Regions from separate parts of the Homo sapiens genome. Here all the other regions are linked to region 1. Evidence: fine-mapped expression QTL. A gene starts in region 1. Each other region holds a variant in brackets. All regions are shown on one strand. Distances are between the middles of the regions. Region 1 holds the start of ZNF503 (zinc finger protein 503). Region 2 overlaps ZNF503-AS1 (ZNF503 antisense RNA 1). Region 3 overlaps LRMDA (leucine rich melanocyte differentiation associated). Region 4 overlaps LRMDA (leucine rich melanocyte differentiation associated).

Region 1 (4,673 bases):
TCGTTCCGAGGAAGGGGGTGTGTCCTCCTCCCCACCCCCTCTAATTTCTGCGAGTTCCTGGAGGAGACCCTCGAACCCGCTCCGGACGCTATCAGAGCCCCGATAACTCACGCAGCGCCACAGGCATGCATACACACTGGGCATCCAGGTCCAGGTACCCGGTGGCACGCACAGCGCCTCCCCTTTTCTTCCCAAACAACCCGAGTGACGGTGCAAATCGAGGGGAACGCGGCAGTCCCGCTCCGCTTCCCTGGAAGAACCCGCGTTCCCACAGGCAGCCGCCCCCTCCCTCTCTCGCTCCTTCCCTCGGCTCTCCTAGCGCAGCTCATTCCGACTCGGCGTTCCAATAAATTCGAGAGAGCAGCCCCGAGTTACCCTGGCTCCCCAGCCTGCGGGGATGGCGGCAGGTGGGAGAAGGTCGGGGAGGGGGCATGAGTGAGCCTGAGATGTTTCTTCCCCCATACACCCATGGCCAGGCCTCTTCTTCGCAGCCTCTTAGCCCTGCTTACGACCCGAGGGGGTCAAAGAATTGAGGCGAGGTTTGCCCCACCATTGACCTCCAGGACTAGAAGTTCCTTGGTGGTGTGGCTCTTAGAAGTCTCCGAGTTTGGGGTTAGGGAACTACAGAGGGTGGCAGCCTGACCTCCGCACGCAACACGCCCCGCGAGGACTCGCGGCGGCGGGGTGGGGTGGCGGGAAATCTCCCGTGTTAGAAGTTGCCGCCGCTGGTCTCGGGTACCCGGAGCCGCGCCCGAACTCCGCGACCCCAACAGACCGAGGCTCCCAGAGGTGGAAGGGCGTCTCTCCGACACCGAGAGGGCAGGCGCACACTCCAGGCCTGCGCGCCCCTCTCGGCGCCCTGGGCGCACCTGCGCACTTTACTCTCGCTATTCATTTTCCTGACACCGTGCGCCTCTTTCATTCTTTTTCTTAGAGCCCCCACCCCACCCCCATCCCAGGAGGCCGCTCCTCTTTTCCCCTCCTCCAGTTCCCTCTCAATCTCCTCCTTCCTCTCCGTCTCTCTCTCCCTCTCTCTTTTTCCCTTCAAGTCGCACCCGCCTTGTAATCAGCAACAAAAGCTGACATAAATCACGGGAGGATTGACAAGAGCTGACAAATAACTGATTGATTGCGGTCGAGGAACATTGACAATTGATGGAGGGGTGGAGATGCCCAAAGAAGGGGGGGAGGGAGGAAAACAGGGTGGGAGAGTAAGAATGGGGGGTTGGGGGACAGACTGAGGGTGAAACAGAGGAAACATGTGACCCCCGCTGCTGCCCCAATCTACGCGTCCCCGGGCGTCACGTGGCCGGGAAGGGCGGAGAGCCCAGCGCTCCTCGCGGTGTTGAGCCGCCGCCGCTGCGACTGCCCATCTAGCTTCTGGTTTCTCCGCCGCGGAATCTGAGGAAATTAGAGCGGGCGGGCGGGCTTCTTCCAGCTCCGGCTCCCCACCTTGCCTTCTTACCCTGGTGGCTGCGCTGCGCCGCGCGGGATCTCGATTACTGCGAAGGAAAAAACACTGGGTGTGCAGGTTCCCTTCGCCCCTGGAGTTGACAGTCCGGCCGGTGTCCACACTCCCACCGGTGCTCCTTCTGGACACCCCCCGCAGTCTGTTCCTCACGCGCACCCCCCTTCAAAAGAAGGTTTCAGTTTATTTTCGAGCTGGGGAAAGGAAGAACGACGAGGAGGAAAAAAGAGGGAGGCGGCGGATGGCAAACGTAGAATAAATGTCCATCTCGTCCTCCCAGCGAAATCGAGGGAGGGGACACACAGGGGGGCGGCGAAGAGGGAGCTGCCCATTAAAACCGGCACTGAGAGTCCTGGCAGCGGCGGCGGCGGCGGCGCGGGACGCGTCACATCCCCTTGACCCTCCAATCACCTCGGGCTCCCATTTGATTGGAAGGCGGCAAAGGCTTTAATCTCCCCCTTGGTGCAGCTGCTTTTGAAGTGAGTTTCCTCGCCAGAGCCCCGGCTGGACACGCAGCGGCTCGCATCGCAGAGCGCAGCGCCGGCGCGGGGCCGCGAGAACGCAGCGCAGGGGAGCAGCCCGAGGCGGACACCGCGAGCCGCCCGGCACTCCCGCAGTCCAGCCGGCTCCTCTAGCCCGGCCACGGCTCCGCTGCGGGCCACCCAGGATTACTCGCGTCTGGCTCCAGGCGCCGAGAAGGCGCGCTGGGCGCCCGTGGCCGCCGCGCCAGCTCCTCCTCCTCCCGCTGCTCCTGCTCCCGGGGCGAGCGCGCAGCCCCGAGCCCGCCCCGCGCCTCCCGGAGCCCTCCCCCCCGCTGCTCCCATGCGCGCGGGTGGGTCATGAGCACAGCGCCCTCGCTTTCTGCCCTAAGAAGCAGTAAGCACAGCGGCGGCGGCGGCGGCGGAGGCGGAGGCGGCGGTGCAGACCCTGCCTGGACCAGCGCGCTCTCTGGAAATAGCTCCGGCCCCGGCCCAGGCTCGTCCCCGGCCGGCAGCACCAAGCCTTTTGTGCACGCCGTGCCCCCCTCTGACCCCCTGCGCCAGGCCAACCGCCTGCCAATCAAGGTGCTGAAGATGCTGACGGCACGAACTGGCCACATTTTGCACCCCGAGTACCTGCAGCCCCTGCCTTCCACGCCGGTCAGCCCCATCGAGGTAAGGACCCTCTCTCTGGATCGCACTGGGACCACTACCCTGGCTGCCACCCTAGGGCTTTCTTTTTCTCGGGATCTGGGCGGAGGTGGGGGGGTCGGAGTGATTCAGCTCCCGAATGGGGGAAGAGGCTACTGCTTCCGTACCTCAAAACTAGGGCGGAAAAGGGGGAGGAAGTGGAATGGGGCGTGCATGCTAGGGAGCAAGGCTGCCAATACTTGTTTCTCCTTTCGATATGAAAGCCCCTACCCCGACCCAGGCCCCTTCACTCGGCACCGAAGGCAGGCGGAGGTCTGAAATACGGTTCCAAAGTCGCCGTCCTTCGTATCCGCAGAAGCCAGTGTGTGCACACAGCCTCTGAGGCGCCAGCCGCCCGAGCCCTTACTCTGAAGAATTAAGGAGTGTTTGTGGGGAGGGGGTACAGTTCTGGGTCTAGGAACCGAAAACCAAAACATTTTGCTCTTTAAAAATCTAGTTAGCGCTCAGAGAGGGCAGGAAAGATGCTGCTGGGGGTGGTGGTTGGGCGGGGGGAGCAATCTGCTGCCTTTCCCAACGGCGAGAATGTTTGTGAGTGGGTGTTGAAGAGGGGGTGCCGCCTAGAATTGCGCCTTGGGGCTGGGAGGATCTTCGTGGGCTGTTGCGGAGAGGCATTTGAACCCCAGAAGCCAGGATTCTAAAGGGTTTCCACTTCTTTCTCTGTGTGACGCTCCCCCCCCATCGTCTGACCCCGCAGCTCGATGCCAAGAAGAGCCCGCTGGCGCTGTTGGCGCAAACATGTTCGCAGATCGGGAAGCCCGACCCCTCGCCCTCCTCCAAACTCTCCTCGGTTGCCTCCAACGGGGGCGGCGCGGGCGGTGCCGGCGGCGGTGCTGCGGGCGACAAGGACACCAAATCGGGCCCCCTGAAGCTGAGCGACATCGGCGTGGAGGACAAGTCGAGTTTCAAGCCGTACTCCAAACCCGGCTCGGATAAGAAGGAGCCGGGAGGCGGCGGTGGAGGCGGTGGCGGTGGCGGGGGCGGCGGCGGGGGTGTTTCGTCGGAGAAGTCGGGATTCCGGGTACCGAGCGCCACCTGCCAGCCATTCACGCCCAGGACAGGCAGCCCGAGCTCCAGCGCCTCGGCCTGCTCGCCGGGAGGTATGCTGTCCTCGGCCGGGGGTGCCCCGGAGGGCAAGGACGACAAGAAAGACACCGACGTGGGCGGCGGTGGCAAGGGCACCGGGGGCGCCTCGGCCGAAGGGGGACCCACGGGGCTGGCACACGGCCGGATTAGCTGCGGCGGCGGGATTAATGTGGATGTGAACCAGCATCCGGATGGGGGCCCGGGAGGCAAGGCTCTGGGCTCGGACTGCGGCGGTTCATCGGGCTCCAGCTCCGGCTCCGGCCCCAGCGCGCCCACCTCCTCCTCAGTGTTGGGCTCTGGGCTGGTGGCTCCCGTGTCACCCTACAAGCCGGGCCAGACAGTGTTCCCTCTGCCTCCCGCGGGTATGACCTACCCAGGCAGCCTGGCCGGGGCCTACGCCGGCTACCCGCCCCAGTTCCTGCCACACGGCGTGGCACTTGACCCCACCAAGCCGGGCAGCCTGGTGGGGGCGCAGCTGGCGGCGGCCGCGGCCGGGTCTCTGGGCTGCAGTAAGCCGGCCGGCTCCAGCCCTTTGGCCGGAGCGTCTCCGCCGTCCGTGATGACAGCCAGTTTGTGCCGGGACCCTTACTGCCTCAGCTACCACTGCGCTAGCCACCTGGCAGGGGCGGCGGCCGCCAGCGCTTCTTGCGCACATGATCCGGCTGCTGCGGCTGCGGCGCTGAAGTCCGGATACCCGCTGGTGTACCCCACGCACCCGCTGCACGGTGTGCACTCCTCGCTAACGGCCGCCGCGGCTGCTGGCGCCACACCGCCCTCCCTGGCCGGCCACCCCCTCTACCCCTACGGCTTTATGCTCCCTAACGACCCACTCCCCCACATCTGCAACTGGGTGTCGGCCAACGGGCCGTGCGACAAGCGCTTCGCCACGTCCGAAGAGCTGCTGAGCCACTTGCGGACCCATACGGCATTTC
Region 2 (4,673 bases), 63 kb after region 1:
CCGAGGTGGGTGGATCACGAGGTCAGGAGTCCGAGACCAGCGTGACCAACATGGTGAAACCACATCTCTACTAAAAATACAAAAACAAATTAGCCCAGCGTGGTGGCGCATGCCTGTAATCCCAGCTACTTGGGAGGCTGAGGCAGGAGAATCGCTCGAACCTGGGAAGTGGAGGTTGCAGTGAGCTGAAATCATGCCATTGCACTCCAGCCTGGGCAACAAGAGCGAAACTCTGTCTCAAAAAACAAAAAAAAAAGAGACAGCAGCAGTGTCCTTTTCAATAGATGCATGGTATTCTATGAAGTTACCTTCATTTATTATCCAATCTCTAATTGCTGGATATTTTGGTTGTTTTCAGTTGTTCACGATTGTGAACAAAACTATCATGGATATCATTATATGCTGATCTTTGTGCACTTGTCCAACTATTTTCTTAGAACACATTCCTAGAAGTGGAATTGCTGGGATAAAGTATATGAACATTTTTAAGACTTTGATACTGCCCAAATGCCTCAAGAAAGACCAGACAAATTTACACTCCCACCAGTAGAGTTGAAAGTCTTGTTTCACTGCTGTGTGTGTGACTATTATTATTATTGTTGTTATTTTGAGACAGGGTCTCACTATGTTGCCCAGGCTGGAGTGCAGTGGTGTGATCACGGCTCACTGCAGCCTCGACCCCCCGCCCCCTCCCCCCGGCCCCCACCACCAGGCCCCCATTCAGGTGATCCTCCCACCTCAGTGTCCTGAGTAGCTGCGACTACAGGCGCACACCACCACACCAGCTAATTTTTGTATTTTTTGTAGAGATAGGGTTTTGCCGTGTTGCCCAGGCTGGTCTCAAACTCCTGGGCTCAAGTAATCCACTCGCCTTACCTCCCAAAGTGCTGGGATTACAGGCGTGAGCCACTGCGCCCAGTTTATTATTATTATTTTAAATCTATGTCACTTGTTTTCACTCCCTAGTCTAAGCAGAGAGGTGGCCCAGAAAAACATTCTGAACCAGAGAGTCTCACAACCCATTTCCCATGACGAATCAATGGTTGGTTGGCAAAAGACCTATAGGCTATGTCTTCATAACTTAAATAGCATCAAGATGTATAAAACCATCTTCTACCATACCATTCGCCTTTGCCCCCCAATCTACTTTTCCCCCAGGGACTCCGCCTCCTTGGGGCATCACCAAGGCACAGGTGGCTTGGCTCCTCGCTGGCGACACCCACCCGTGTGTTGGCAGAATAGGCACCTATCACTGGGCTCTCTCTTTAGCTCTTGACAAAATATCTCCCCCACCAGCGTGTCACAGCACCTTGAATGTCTACCACTGGTGGCATACAACAAGCAGTTTTCTAAACATTCAGAGGTTATCTCAGGTGACATTTTATGAGCTAATAAGTGTTTTGGAGGCTCTCCCATCTTCTTTCCGAAGCTCCCCTCTCATGTACTGCCAAGTGACCCGGTGCCTTTGGCCATCTGAATGCCTGACTCTAGCCCCCATTTTCCTCTTCTGACGGCCACCTGAAGTCCTTTTTTTTATACATGAGAGAAACATCTTCCTACTCCAAACAGAGCAAGAAGATTTTTTAGAGGGAGGAGATATTTCAACAACTCTTTCTTTTTTTTTGAGACGGAGTCTCGCTCTGTCACCCAGGCTGGAGTGCAATGGCACGATCTCGGCTCACTGCAACCTCCACCTCCCAGGTTCAAGCAATTCTCCTGTCTCAGCCTCTCTAGTAGCTGGGATTACAGGTGTGTACCATAATGTCCGGCTAATTTTTTGTATTTTAGTAGAGACGAGGTTTCACCACCATGTTTCCCAGGCTGGTCTCAAACTCCTGAGCTCAAGCAATCCACCCGCCTCGGCCTCCAAAAGTGCTAGGATTACAGGCATGAGCCACCGTGCCCGGCCTTCAACAACTCTTTCAATAAAGAGAGGGAGGCAAAGAGCGAGAGTGACTTGGGAGGAGGCTTAGGGTAGAGACAGAATAGGAACTATTGCAGCTGCCTCACTCCCTGCAAGATTCTCGAAGCAGGGCACACCGCTGGTGCCCAATCTGTGTGTGTTCCTTCTCCAAAGAATGGATGATTCCCACAGGCATGTCCCTATGGCGACACCTTCCATTATTTCCTTTACTTTCTGTATCCATTTGCTCTCTCTCCAGAAAGTTCCAGATCTCAGGCACCTTCCCAGACTCTCAAAAGTCCCAGGAGAGAGGAGGAGAGGGATGAGGGCCCTGAGCACTGCTGCCACTCCCCAGAGAGGTCAGGGAAACAAGGCCCAGCTCCCCTTACCAGAAATCCCCTCTCCCCTTGGACCAGAAAAGGGTTAATTTTATAATTGCTAACATCAATTAGATCCTTACAATGTTATGGGCCCTCTGTTAAGCACTTTACACACATGATGTCATTTAAATAATATATTTCTCCTTACTTATCTGATGAGAAAGTGAGACTTGTAAAGTTTAAGTGAGAGACTTCAGGATCAGAATC[CAGGTATCT/T]CTTTTTCCAAAGCCAAAGCCTTAAGTACCATCGTCTGTTGTCTTCTACAGTAAGTGTTCCATAAATGCAAGGTGAAAAAAGGAAAAAAGAGAGAGTGAGGGAAAGAGGGCAGAAGGAAACTTTATGTCATTGTAATGCAGGGAATATAGCATCATTTGCCATAAGTAGAAGGTAACATTAACATAAAGACGTTATGATTACAATTTAAAATGTTGGTCTACATGTCATCTAAAGTCACTGTTTCTATTCTTAAGAAACACTGGAACATTTGATCTCTGAGGTCCATTTCTAGCACACAATTCTATAATTTCCAAGGATTAAGTAGCTATTTTCTTAAGATAAACTTCCACGGACCTTGGATGCATGGGTAATAAAATCCTAAGGGCAGATGCTGGGTCTTATTTATCTCTATATTCTCCATAAGCATTTAGTACAACATCTGGCCCAGGGTGAATGTATAGAAGATTAGTTATAAATTCCCTTCCCCTCTCTAGGTATTGGTGTTCCAATCCAAAGAATAAAAGGGCTAGATTAGGTGATCCTGAAGGGTGCTTTTGCTCTGCAAGCCACTGGTCCACTGAACCTAAGTGGTCCTTTCCTTATTGGTTCTCTGGCTTTCTGCTTCATCAGTCCTGTGGTTGGCAAAATTCTAAAGATGGTTCCCCAAGACTCCCATACCCTGGTTATTCAACCAAACACTAATCTAGGTACTGCTGTGGAGAATTTTTTTTTCTTTTGGAGACGGAGTCTAGCTCTTTCACCCAGGCTGGAGGGCAGTGGCACGATCTTGGCTCACTGCAACCTCTGCCTCCTGGGTTCAAGCGATTCTCCTGCCTCAGCCTCCTGAGTAGCTGGGATTACAGGCGCCTGCCACCACCCTAATTTTTGTATTTTTAGTAGAGATGGGGTTTCACCGTGTTGGCCAGGCTGGTCTTGAACTCCTGACCTCGTGATCCGCCCACCTCGACCTCCCAAAGTGCTGGGATTACAAGTGTGAGCCACCGTGCCCCACCGAGAATTTTTTTTTAAGACAGGTTTTCACTTTGTTGCCCATGCTGGAGGGCAGTAGCACGATCTCGGCTCACTGCAACCTTGGCCTCCTGGGCTCAAGCCATCCTCCTACCTTAAGCCAGCCTCCCAAGTAGCTGGGACTACAGGCACGCACCACCACGCCCGACTAATTGTTGTGTTTTTTGTAGAGATGGGGTTTCACCATGTTACCCAGGCTGGTCTCAAACTCCTGGGCTCAAGCAATTCACCTGTCTTGGCCTCCCAAAGTGCTGGGATTACAGGTGTGAGCCACCACACCCTGCCAGAATTTTTCAGATATAATTAAAGACCCAAGTCAGTTGACCTTAAGATAGAGAGATTAGCTGGGTGGGCTTAACCCAGTAAGACAAGCCTTTTAAAAGCAGAGAGTTTTCTCCAGCTGGTAGCAGAAAAATAAGGCAGGAGAATTCAATGCATGGGAATTCTCTGTTGCTGAGATTAAGGGGGCCACATGGAAGGATCTGAGAGTGGCCTCAATAGGCTGAGAGTGACACCCTAGCCAGCAAGAAGATGGGGACCTCAGTCCCACAGTTACCAGGAACTGAATCTGCCAACAACCTGAATGAGGTTGGAAATGGATTCTTCCCCAGAGCCTCCAAGAAGATCCCAGCCTGGCCAACATCTTGATTTTGGCCTTGTGAGATCCAAAACAGAGAAATCAGACAAGCCACCTGGACATCTGACCCACAGAGCTGAGACATAATAAACCGGTGTTGTTTTCAGCTGCTGTGATTGTGGTCATCTGTTATGCAGAAGAAGAAAGTGAGTGCAATTCCCTACCCTATTCCTACCAACCCATGCTCCTTTCCAGAGCTCCCTAACATTTAGCAAATGTGCCTCACTTCTAAGGCAAATAATAATAATAATAACGATGATGATTTGAAAATCAGTTTTGGGAATTTTCAGCTTAGGCTTTTTTTTTTTTTTTGACAATTCTGTATAGGTCTAACAAGGAAGTATTAAATATTGAGTTTCTAATGTGTTTCCAAGTCCTCCATTGGAACATGTAATTTGGACCTAAAATTGTGAATAGACAGGGTGAGTAGAAGCACAGGAAAAGCAGAAGAACAGTTTGCATTGGAGATGCTTAGTAGGTGTAATAGAAGAAGTGAAACTTTGAGGTG
Region 3 (4,673 bases), 57 kb before region 1:
AAAAGAAAATGTTAGACCAGTGTTTTTCAAACTGTGTTCCATGGAACCCTAGGGTACCACAAGGGGCTTTCAGAGTTTCTCCAAATGATTCATTTGAATTTAACTTTTAAATTATTTTAACTATTTAAAAAACATAATTCAAAAGGCAGTATGTACTCCCAAAGACATACTACACCAAATTTTAACACACTAGAAGATACTGGTATATTAACTTACGCAATCACATTAACTCACTTTTCAAAATACAGCTTCTTCTTACAATTATTTAAACAATAATCTGATATTACAGGATGAACTTTAAGGGGAAAATAAATGTCACTATTTGCAAATACTTAACTGAGTGTATTGACATTTAAATATTGCACACTCAAACCCAAATACAAGAATAATCTGAATGCTGGGGCCAGTATAAAACTGCATTTTGTCTCTAACCTTAATACCAAACCCAGTGCTATGGTTTGAATGTGTTCCCCAAAGTTCATGTATTGGAAACTTAATCCCCAATGCAACAGTGTTAGGAGGTGGAGCCTAATACGAGGCATTTATTAATAAGAGTGATGAGGACTCCACCTTCATGAATGGAGCAATGCAGATTATAAAAGGGCTTGAGGCTGCAAGTTCAATCACTTGCTCTCTTGCCCTTGCACTTCCACCATGCGATGATGTAGCAAGAAGGCCCTCATCAGATGCAGCCCCTAGATCTTGGACTTCCCAACTTCCAGAACCATAAGCCAGTACATTTCTGTTCATTATAAATGGCCCAATCTCAGGTATACTGTCTAGCAACACAAAATGAACTGAGACACCCAGTGTTCATCTGAATAGTTTCACTGTTTTTGCTGAGCTTAAAAAATATATATATTTGTATTCCATAATGGGCTTTCTATAATTTGTTTGACAAGGATTCTGCTGCTAGAAAAATAACTTTGAAAAACCACTGGATTAAACCAACCTAAGGTCCTTTGGAAGCGTGTGCTTTTGTGCAGCATAGCATAGGGGATCCCAGGAGAAGTTGAGCACTGTGATAAAGAGGTATGGTTGAGGCCTCCCTTTCATGATGCTATGGCACAATCATGGCTCACTGCAGAATTCAAAACTCCTGGGCTCAAGCAATCCTCCCACCTCAGCCTCCCAAGTAGCTGGGACTATAAGTGTGTGCCACCATGCCTGGCTAATTTTTAAATTTTTTGTAGGGACAAGATCTTACTATGTTCAGCCCAGGCAGGTCTCAAACTCTTGGCCTCAAGTGAGCCTCAGCCTCTCAAAGTACTGGAATTACAGGCATGAACTACTGCACCTAGCCAATCTGACTAGTTAACACTCTAAAAGCAGCGGGTTTTTTTTCCTAATATTAAATCAATTTCAAATTTCCACATTCCATCTTGCTGCGTACTGCCTGTGATTTTTACAATCATCTTCTGTAAAGAGGTTCTAACAAGTCCTTAAAAGAAAAAAAAAAAATCTAAAGCAGACCCTGAAGTTACAACTGAACCATTCAATTCAAGGTAGATCAGAAATTGCATAAAATGAAAACTTTTAGTAAAGACAAAAAAATCAGATGGGAGTTTTTTTTATGGTTGTAAAAATAGCCGCTTGCTCCTTGCAAGGTCTATGATCTTCCTTTTGATACTACATGAACCAGGAAGATAACTGTTCTCAAGCCCAAGGCAGGAAGAGTAAATTTAGTTCCTCCTGCTACCTGACGGAAAGCTTGTCCCATCAGGTACAGTCTGTGGAAGAGCAAATTGGGGAAGGGTGGGGTGCATCTATGTTGAAACTGCTGTAGAGGGTTAGGTGATAAAATTCTTCTCTGAGCTCAGAGGTACAACTAGATAAAAATCATGCCTCAAAATTGTTAAGTAAGATATGGAATTTTACTCTGACGTTTGGCTTTCTTAAAATCTTACTATAATGACATACCTTATTTAGTATTCTATCACTGCTAATAATCATCATGTTTATTTTGTTCTAATGAAGATTCTGCTTCCTCCCTCTTCCCTTTTAAAACATAATTGAATTGGAAAATGTTATACTCTCAGTTGTCCTTGCCCAAGGGAAACCTGGCCATTCAGACCCAAGTCCATAACTTTGCAATCTACAGTCTGGCAGGAAGTAGACCCCCCACAGAGCCCTAACTTTGCAAAACCAAACCTATAAACAACCAATGCCATAGGACCCCAAGCAAAATAATCTTAAAGATAAACCTGCTCAAAGTCAAAAGAATCAAAAATGAAATAAACTACTTTTGGGATATCTACTCTTTCAGTATATCTTCTACAGGAACAAAACTCTTTTACATTTAGTATTTCATTTGGTCTTCACAACTCCTTCTATCTCCCATTTGGAGAATGACAACAGAGATTAAATGACCTACTCAATATTTCACAGACGATTTGTGATGGAACAAAGACAAATACTCAATACTCAATACTCAGGCATCCTGTGTCTTAATGATCTCCTTGATTTTCTACTAGATCATCCTCCAGCCAGAAATACCCCAGCTTCTTGGTCTCCAACAATGACTCTGAGCTTCAAACTAGCAAGAGTTCAGTTTCTCAATTAAAAGTAAAA[AG/G]AAAAAATGGCAGTAATGCATTAGAGTTATGTAGTGTTAGTGATTTAAAGTGCATTTGCATTCAAATCACCTCTTTCCCCTGGAACCCAGAAACACTCTGAGGAGTGAGAAAAGAGGACAATATTCTTTGCCTGTAACTGATGGAAAATGCCGTCCAGATAAACGGCAGCAGCAAGAGGACTAAAACATATCTGAGATAGAACCAAAAACTGGTGGTCCATAAAGGAACAGGACAATAAAACTTAACCTAATTTTCTATAGACTTTCAAAACACTATTATTTAATGTACAGCCTCAGTGCCTACAGTTTTATCTCCTCCTGAAAAAATGATAAGGTGAAATATAAGTTTGGGAAGAAAATAAAACAACAGCAGCCTTAGTTGTCTCCCCCGCAACTCCTGTCACTCCAGGGAGAAGGTTTGATGGGAGAACCCATACCTCGAGTCCTTACTTGGCTGTCCTCCCTGAAAGACTCTGGCATGGCCAACTTCTACATCCCAGAATCACCACTACGCTGTAGGGGTTGTCCCCTTTTCATGAGCCTGGAAGACAATTTTCCTCTTCTCAGTCAACCTATACTAGTTTGCCAGATAAAGATCTTAGGACAACAATGAATTTGAATTAGGGGAAACATGCATCAAATAGAATACAGTATAGGAGCTAACAGTCGACTTTGTAGTCAGGCAAAGCTGCATTTAGATCTTGGTCCCCCCACTGACCAGCTGCATGCCCTTGGGAAAGCCTTTTAACCTCTGCACATTTTTGTTCTCTGTCTTTAAGCTGGAAAGAACACCTTGCTTGCCATAAAGATTCAAGAAGGTCATCAGGGAAAACTGATAGATGAATGGGAGTCACCAGTACCATTACCTCTTCTAGAATAAGCAATTACCATGTTTTTTTTAAAATCCATTTTACCGCCACGTGAGGTGACTCATGCCTATAATCCTGGCACTTTGGGAGGCCAAGGCAGGTGGATTGCCTGAGGTCAGGAATTCGAGACCGGCCTGGCCAAAATGGTGAAACCCTGACTCTCCTAAAAATACAAAAATTAGCTGGGAGTGGTGGCACGCACCTGTAATCCCAGCTACTCGGGAGGCTGAGCCAGGAGAATCACTTTAACCTGGGAGGCGGAGGTTGCAGTGAGCCAAGATTGTGCCACAGCACTTCAGCCTGGGCGAAAGAGCAAGCTCTTTTTCAAAAAACAAAATAAAATAAAATAAAATCCATTTTAGCAAAAGAAGAATTCCCAGGTTAGATTGTGTCTTCTGATAGAGGGGCACCTACCTAGTGTGTAACCCTGTCCTGGGCACTTCTGAAAGAGAAGCTGTTATCCCATCCTGGAAAAGCATACATTTCAATGGGAGACAGAGTTTCTGCAAAGGCCCTAAGGCACTCACAGAATCAATAATCTACCAATTCTCCCAGGGAAGAATGTACCCCTAAGTGCTGGCCTTGCAGAAACACTGTGGCATGAAAGAGTGAAAATAAATGCAATTTCTGAAAGATGAGGTTTCAAGTTTTGGTTCCTCCCCTTCTGAACGAGCACAGAGCCAGCCCACAGGGCCTTGCTGGGTGTGAAGAGGCACATGCTTGTGGCAGGAGTCTTGGAAGAACTGCATTAACCGTGACCCTTCTAACAGCGTAATTGCCGCGTATATGTGTCAGGGCCGAAACGCAGGCCCTGCTCAGCCTGGGAATGGGCTGCCCTCCACCCGCTGGAGGTGGCTTGTCTCCCCCGCAACTCCTGTCACTCCAGGGTGAAAATTTGATGGGAGAACCCATACCTTGAGTCCTTACTTGGCTGGCCTCTCTGAAAGACTCTGGCATGGCCAGCTTCTATGTCCCAGAATCACCACTACGCTACACAGCAAAAGGGTTTATGTCTTTGGGTGTGGGAAGAAACTTACCCTGTTCTCCAGTTTCTCTTGTGGATTCCAACCCACCCCTGAGGGCATACAGATCAGGTTCTCACCATTCCTACTCAGGAAAATCCTGGCCCCAAAGCCCTGATGTTGTACAGGCTCCGAAGTCTTAAGGCAGCATGGAAAATCCTGCCCTCCCTCCAGGAGGTGGCTCAGGTCTCAGTTTCTTCATGAAGTTTC
Region 4 (4,673 bases), 580 kb before region 1:
GCCACTTTAAACATAAAGCACTAGTTTTAATTGTTAATAAAGTCATTATTTATAGCTGTGTCTAAGACTCTCCTGATTAACTGCCAATCTCACTCCTCTAAGCCAGTGTTTCCCTAATTTCAGTCACGCATGTACCACCCTTGTAATTTCTGCTCTATTCAAATGTCATCTATTGTAATCATTATTATTAATAATAGCAGTAATATAAGCCATAATAATAACAATAACAACAGAAATAATAACAATAAGAACAATGACTAATGTTCACGGGCTACTCATCACATGCCTGGCACTATTCTTAGAGCTTTATAAGTACTAACCCATTTGGTCCTTATCACAACTCTGTGAGATGGGTACTATTATTAATGCCATTTTACAGATAAGCAAAGTGATGCATGGAAAGTCCAAGGTCATTTGGCCAATAAGTGGCAGGTTACAGATTCAAACTCAGGCCCCAGGACCCACATTTAGCCACTGCACAGATTGCCTGGCTCATCTCTATATGCCGGCATTTACTTAATTTTTTAAACATTGATGCAGTTAAATTTAGACTTAAAGAAAAACATTATAACATTGTATCACACTGTAGGAGATCTGTGAAATCCTGGGTTTGATATGTAATTATAATATGGTTGCATACAAAAAATTATAAGATTATTCAAATAAAAAATGTATTTGTGCCACCTAAAATCATCTAGGAAACAAAATTTAATACTGCTTTATGTACCTGGGAATTCCTTCAACCTCAAGTCACAAAACCACAGGACAATACTGGAAACTCACTGATAGTTCACTGCGTCCACACCCATTCTCCACCTCCTGCTTTGTAACAGAACCTGGATTTTTATTTGGCATGTGGCTGCCAAGCTAAACGATTCCATTTTCCTTTCAGCTAGCTGTGGCTCTGTGACTAAACTCTGGCCAATGAGATGTCAAAGAATGTCTTACGTGGGACTTGCTGGAAGTTTCCTTAAGAGGTAATGAGACTCCTGTTTGTTCCTTCCTCCTCCCTGCTTCTTGAGGGAGGAATGCGCACAGAATGACAAGAGCACAAGCTGCCATCTTGAATCATGAGAAAATATGCTAAGAATGTCAGAGCTACAAAGAGAGGGAACCAGGGTTCCTCATGACACCATGAAATTATCACACCAGCCCTGCAATACTTCCATACTCCTTTTATGTGAGAGAAATAAATCTCTACAATGCTAAGTCACTGTTAACTTGAGCTCTTCTGCTACATGCAGCTAAGCCTCATTCTAATGAACACACCATCCATCCCTTGCTCCAGTGCCCTCCATCTCCAACCAGGAATAACTCACTGAGAGGATCTGTCCCCTAAGTTGTAGCCAATGAACTGAATAGCCCTGGGACAATCAGCATGCCATTTATGTGTCCATTTATAAACCACTCTCCTCCAAACGCTTTATATGCAGTATTCCATTTAATTCCCCCAACAAACTTACAAGACAGGGACCATTATGACCATTATCTCCACAGATGCGGAAACTGAGGCACAGAGAGGTTAAGTACCTTGTCCAAGGTCACACGACTAATAAGTGGCAGAGCCAGAACTCAACCCGACAGTGTGACACCAGAAGATGAGTTCTCAACCCTGAGGCTCTCTACCTGAAATGAAACAGGCATCAGACCTGGACCCTCAGAGGGACTGGCTTCTTCGAAGCTCAAAGGGCTTCACCATCATAGGCCGTGGGCAGCTCCCCAAAGGCTAAAGTGACTTTAGCCTCTCTAGAGATCACCCTGGGGGCCCTAGCAAATGCTTTCTGTCATCCTATTAACACTACTTTCTAATTAGGACCAGTGCAAACCTGATACTTAGGCAGAAATGTCTGTTTATT[T/G]ATTTATTTTGCGTGTGGAAAAAAATATTAAAAAGATGTCCAAAAAGAAGATTCAGAAAATCTTTGCTCCTGCCCCTCAGGAATTCGACTCAGCTCCCCAGATGCCCTGGACAGAGGGGGACGTGTGGCCCCCAACAGTCACCATGGAGTTAACTCATATTTCCCAGGCCTGGCACATGTTCAGTCAAAAACCTGGCGGAGTGCCTGTTGTTTACTGAAGCTGGGGAAGAAGCATCTGCAACATTACGAAAAGCATATTGTAAAAGGCAACACATGCAAATTAAACCTCTTGAGCTATGAGTAAATTGCTGGGAAAATTTATAACTCATTTAATAAAACTTGAAGTAAATACATAGTCTGGCTCCCAGGGAAAACAAAATATTTCCCACAATTCTCTTCTCTTTAAAAAAGGAAAAAAAAAAAAAAGGGAAGAAAAGAACCATCGAGCTAGAGGGCTCTATCTAGTATAAAGTATAAATAGCAAATGTGGTGTGAGCAGACCCCATTTACGGTTATGGGGCATTTCATACCCACGTAGACAGTGCCATGCCCTCTGCTCTTGGAGGTTGACAATGTTCAGGCCTAAGACATTTCCACAATAATCCATGATTGTGTTTACCCAACAAAGCTCTACTGAGCATCTTCTATTCATTAATTCACCCAACAAGGGTTTATTCAGTATCTACTAGAGAGGCATTGTAATGTGGCGATTAGGAACACATGCTCTGGAGCCTTGAATCCAGACTCTGCCACTTACTAGCTGTATGCCCTTGAGCTACTGCATTCATAAACCCTCCATACCTCAGTTTCCTCATCAGTAAAATGGGAATAATAATAATATCCACATCCTGTGGTCATTGTAAACACTAAATGGCTTAATATATGTGAAGGGCTTGGGACAATGCCTGGCAAATAGTAATACTTTGACAAATATTAACTGCTTATTAGTTATTAGCTGGCATTATGGTTCAGCCCCTCTGCCAGGTGCAGGGGGCATAGGATTGAAAGAACAAGGTAGGTGAAGGCCCTGGCTCATGGAGTTTATACTCTACTGGGGGTAGACAGACAATACACATTTAGGCAAATGAATAAACAGCACTTGTGAAGATAATAATACGTGATCTGAAGAAAACAAAAAAGCAACAGAATAGAGAGAGACTGCCAGTTATAAGTGGGTTATATGAGTGTTCGAGAAGGCAATATTTGAGTTGAGACCTAAAAGATAAGAAGGGACCAACTTAACCAAGAATGTTGTATACAAAAGGAATAGCTTGTTAAAGATTCTAAGATGAATGAACGAATGAATAGGTTTGTTCTTTTTGAGTGACCACACAAGGCCAAGGGGCCTGGCATGTACAGAGTAGAGAGAGTTCTGCAGGGATGAAGTGGGAGACGTTGATAGGACCAGACCAGACCAGGCCTTGTAGGCCATGGAAGGACTTTGGATTTTACACCAAGTGCAACAGGTAACTGCTGGAGGGAATTCAGCAAGAGAGTGACAGGAGCTGATTGACAATTTGAACGCCCACTCTGGCTGCCATGTGGCAAATAGATTGTAGGAAGAAAAGAAGAAAAGGAAGAGAGCAGTTTGGAAGCTACTACTGTTGTCCCAGAAATATGTAATGGTGGCTTGGCCCAGGGTGGTGGTGGAAGAGATTCAGGAAACATTTTAGAATTAGAGCTGACAGGACTCTGTGATGAATTGGAAACGGTGGTGAAGGAAAGAAAGAAAGAAAAAATGACTCTGATTTTGGAGAGGCCTGGGATGCTCATCAGCCTGAGACAGATGCTGTAGAATATTGAGCAGACATGATTTCTATTCTAAAAGAACTTTAGAGATAGTCACAGCAGCCTAATACACACAACATAGAATCAAAGGAAGATGTGACAGAAGTGCCTCTGTGCATCGTTCAGAGTTCAAGGCCCAAAGAAAGGAGAGCATGCCATGGGCAGTTTTCATGGAAGGCCACAGAAAACAGGGTACCCAATCTGTCCTCGAAGGACACAGTCCCTGGCACTCCACAAAGAGTGTCACATGAGCACATGTGTAAAGGAGGAAAGCCCAGAATGGTCCACCCCAAAGAAACAAGGAAAGTCACTCCACAGAGACGATTCCTCTATCCAATTCACTGCTGTTTTACTGAACCATCTCCTGGAGATCTGGTGCTGAAGGGAGAATGGGAGGGAGGTAATGACCTCACTCCTATTGGGTCGTCTTTGTTTCCATCCTTCAGAAAAAAATCAGGAAGTCCTGGGAAACAACCATCAGTGTAGAGGCACTCAGGCAAGTTGGGCAGTAGGACAGTGGCTTAGAGCCCAGGGCCTTCAGCCCCCTAGAGCTGCGTGACCTAGACAAGTTACTTCTCCAGTCCTCAGTGTCTACAGAATGGGATAATTATGGTACAGCATCTACCATGCAGGATTCAGTAAAATAACTCCGTCCCAAAGGACTTAGTACAATGCCTGACCTAAGATGAAAGTTACCAGTAGTTTTTATTTAAAGAAATGCTGGTCCTTCCATAGCATCTGTAGATCATCTGTCATAGCTTGTACATACTTGGTGGTCATCGCTCATTAAAGCATCCATCTTCCTCATTGGTTTTTAAATACACAAGTGAACTTTTTGGGGATTGTGCATCATTATTATCAGCAGCTAATACAGTGCCTTGCATTAATCCTCATCATGTTAATAATACTGCAATTATTATCTATGGTATATATTTAGTAAACTCTCACTATGTGCCAGGTATTATGCCAAGCATGTTGTAGGTATGAAATTTTAGGGGACAGGATGGCAGTTAGGAGCATAGAATCCTT

The links. PIP is the estimated chance that this variant, and not a neighbour inherited with it, causes the effect. A credible set is the group of variants that fine-mapping cannot tell apart.
Region 2: its variant is the best candidate, but not a certain one, in a credible set for the expression of ZNF503 in whole blood (INTERVAL, PIP 0.72).
Region 3: its variant is the best candidate, but not a certain one, in a credible set for the expression of ZNF503 in whole blood (TOPMed, PIP 0.55).
Region 4: its variant is the best candidate, but not a certain one, in a credible set for the expression of ZNF503 in whole blood (INTERVAL, PIP 0.69).

What each region holds. Positions count from the first base shown.
Region 1 is chr10:75,399,054-75,403,726 of GRCh38, reverse strand. ZNF503 (zinc finger protein 503) reads left to right here and starts at 1,963. Exons shown (of 2, transcript NM_032772.6): 1 at 1,963-2,622; 2 at 3,353-4,673. The coding sequence starts at 2,308. It overlaps ZNF503-AS2 (ZNF503 antisense RNA 2), which reads right to left and starts at 2,199. Exons shown (of 2, transcript NR_024421.1): 1 at 1,466-2,199. RefSeq lists an enhancer at 2,461-2,961.
Region 2 is chr10:75,336,182-75,340,854 of GRCh38, reverse strand. All of the region lies in intron 2 of ZNF503-AS1 (ZNF503 antisense RNA 1), which reads right to left. It also overlaps a transcript of ZNF503 not described here. Among named protein-coding and RNA genes, the nearest start is that of ZNF503-AS1, 42 kb to the right of the region's middle. The variant CAGGTATCT/T (reference allele first, on the strand shown) is at 2,491.
Region 3 is chr10:75,455,789-75,460,461 of GRCh38, reverse strand. The region is part of intron 2 of LRMDA (leucine rich melanocyte differentiation associated); the gene reads right to left. Among named protein-coding and RNA genes, the nearest start is that of LRMDA, 27 kb to the right of the region's middle. The variant AG/G (reference allele first, on the strand shown) is at 2,572.
Region 4 is chr10:75,974,734-75,979,406 of GRCh38, reverse strand. The region is part of intron 2 of LRMDA (leucine rich melanocyte differentiation associated); the gene reads right to left. Among named protein-coding and RNA genes, the nearest start is that of MIR606, 420 kb to the right of the region's middle. The variant T/G (reference allele first, on the strand shown) is at 1,857.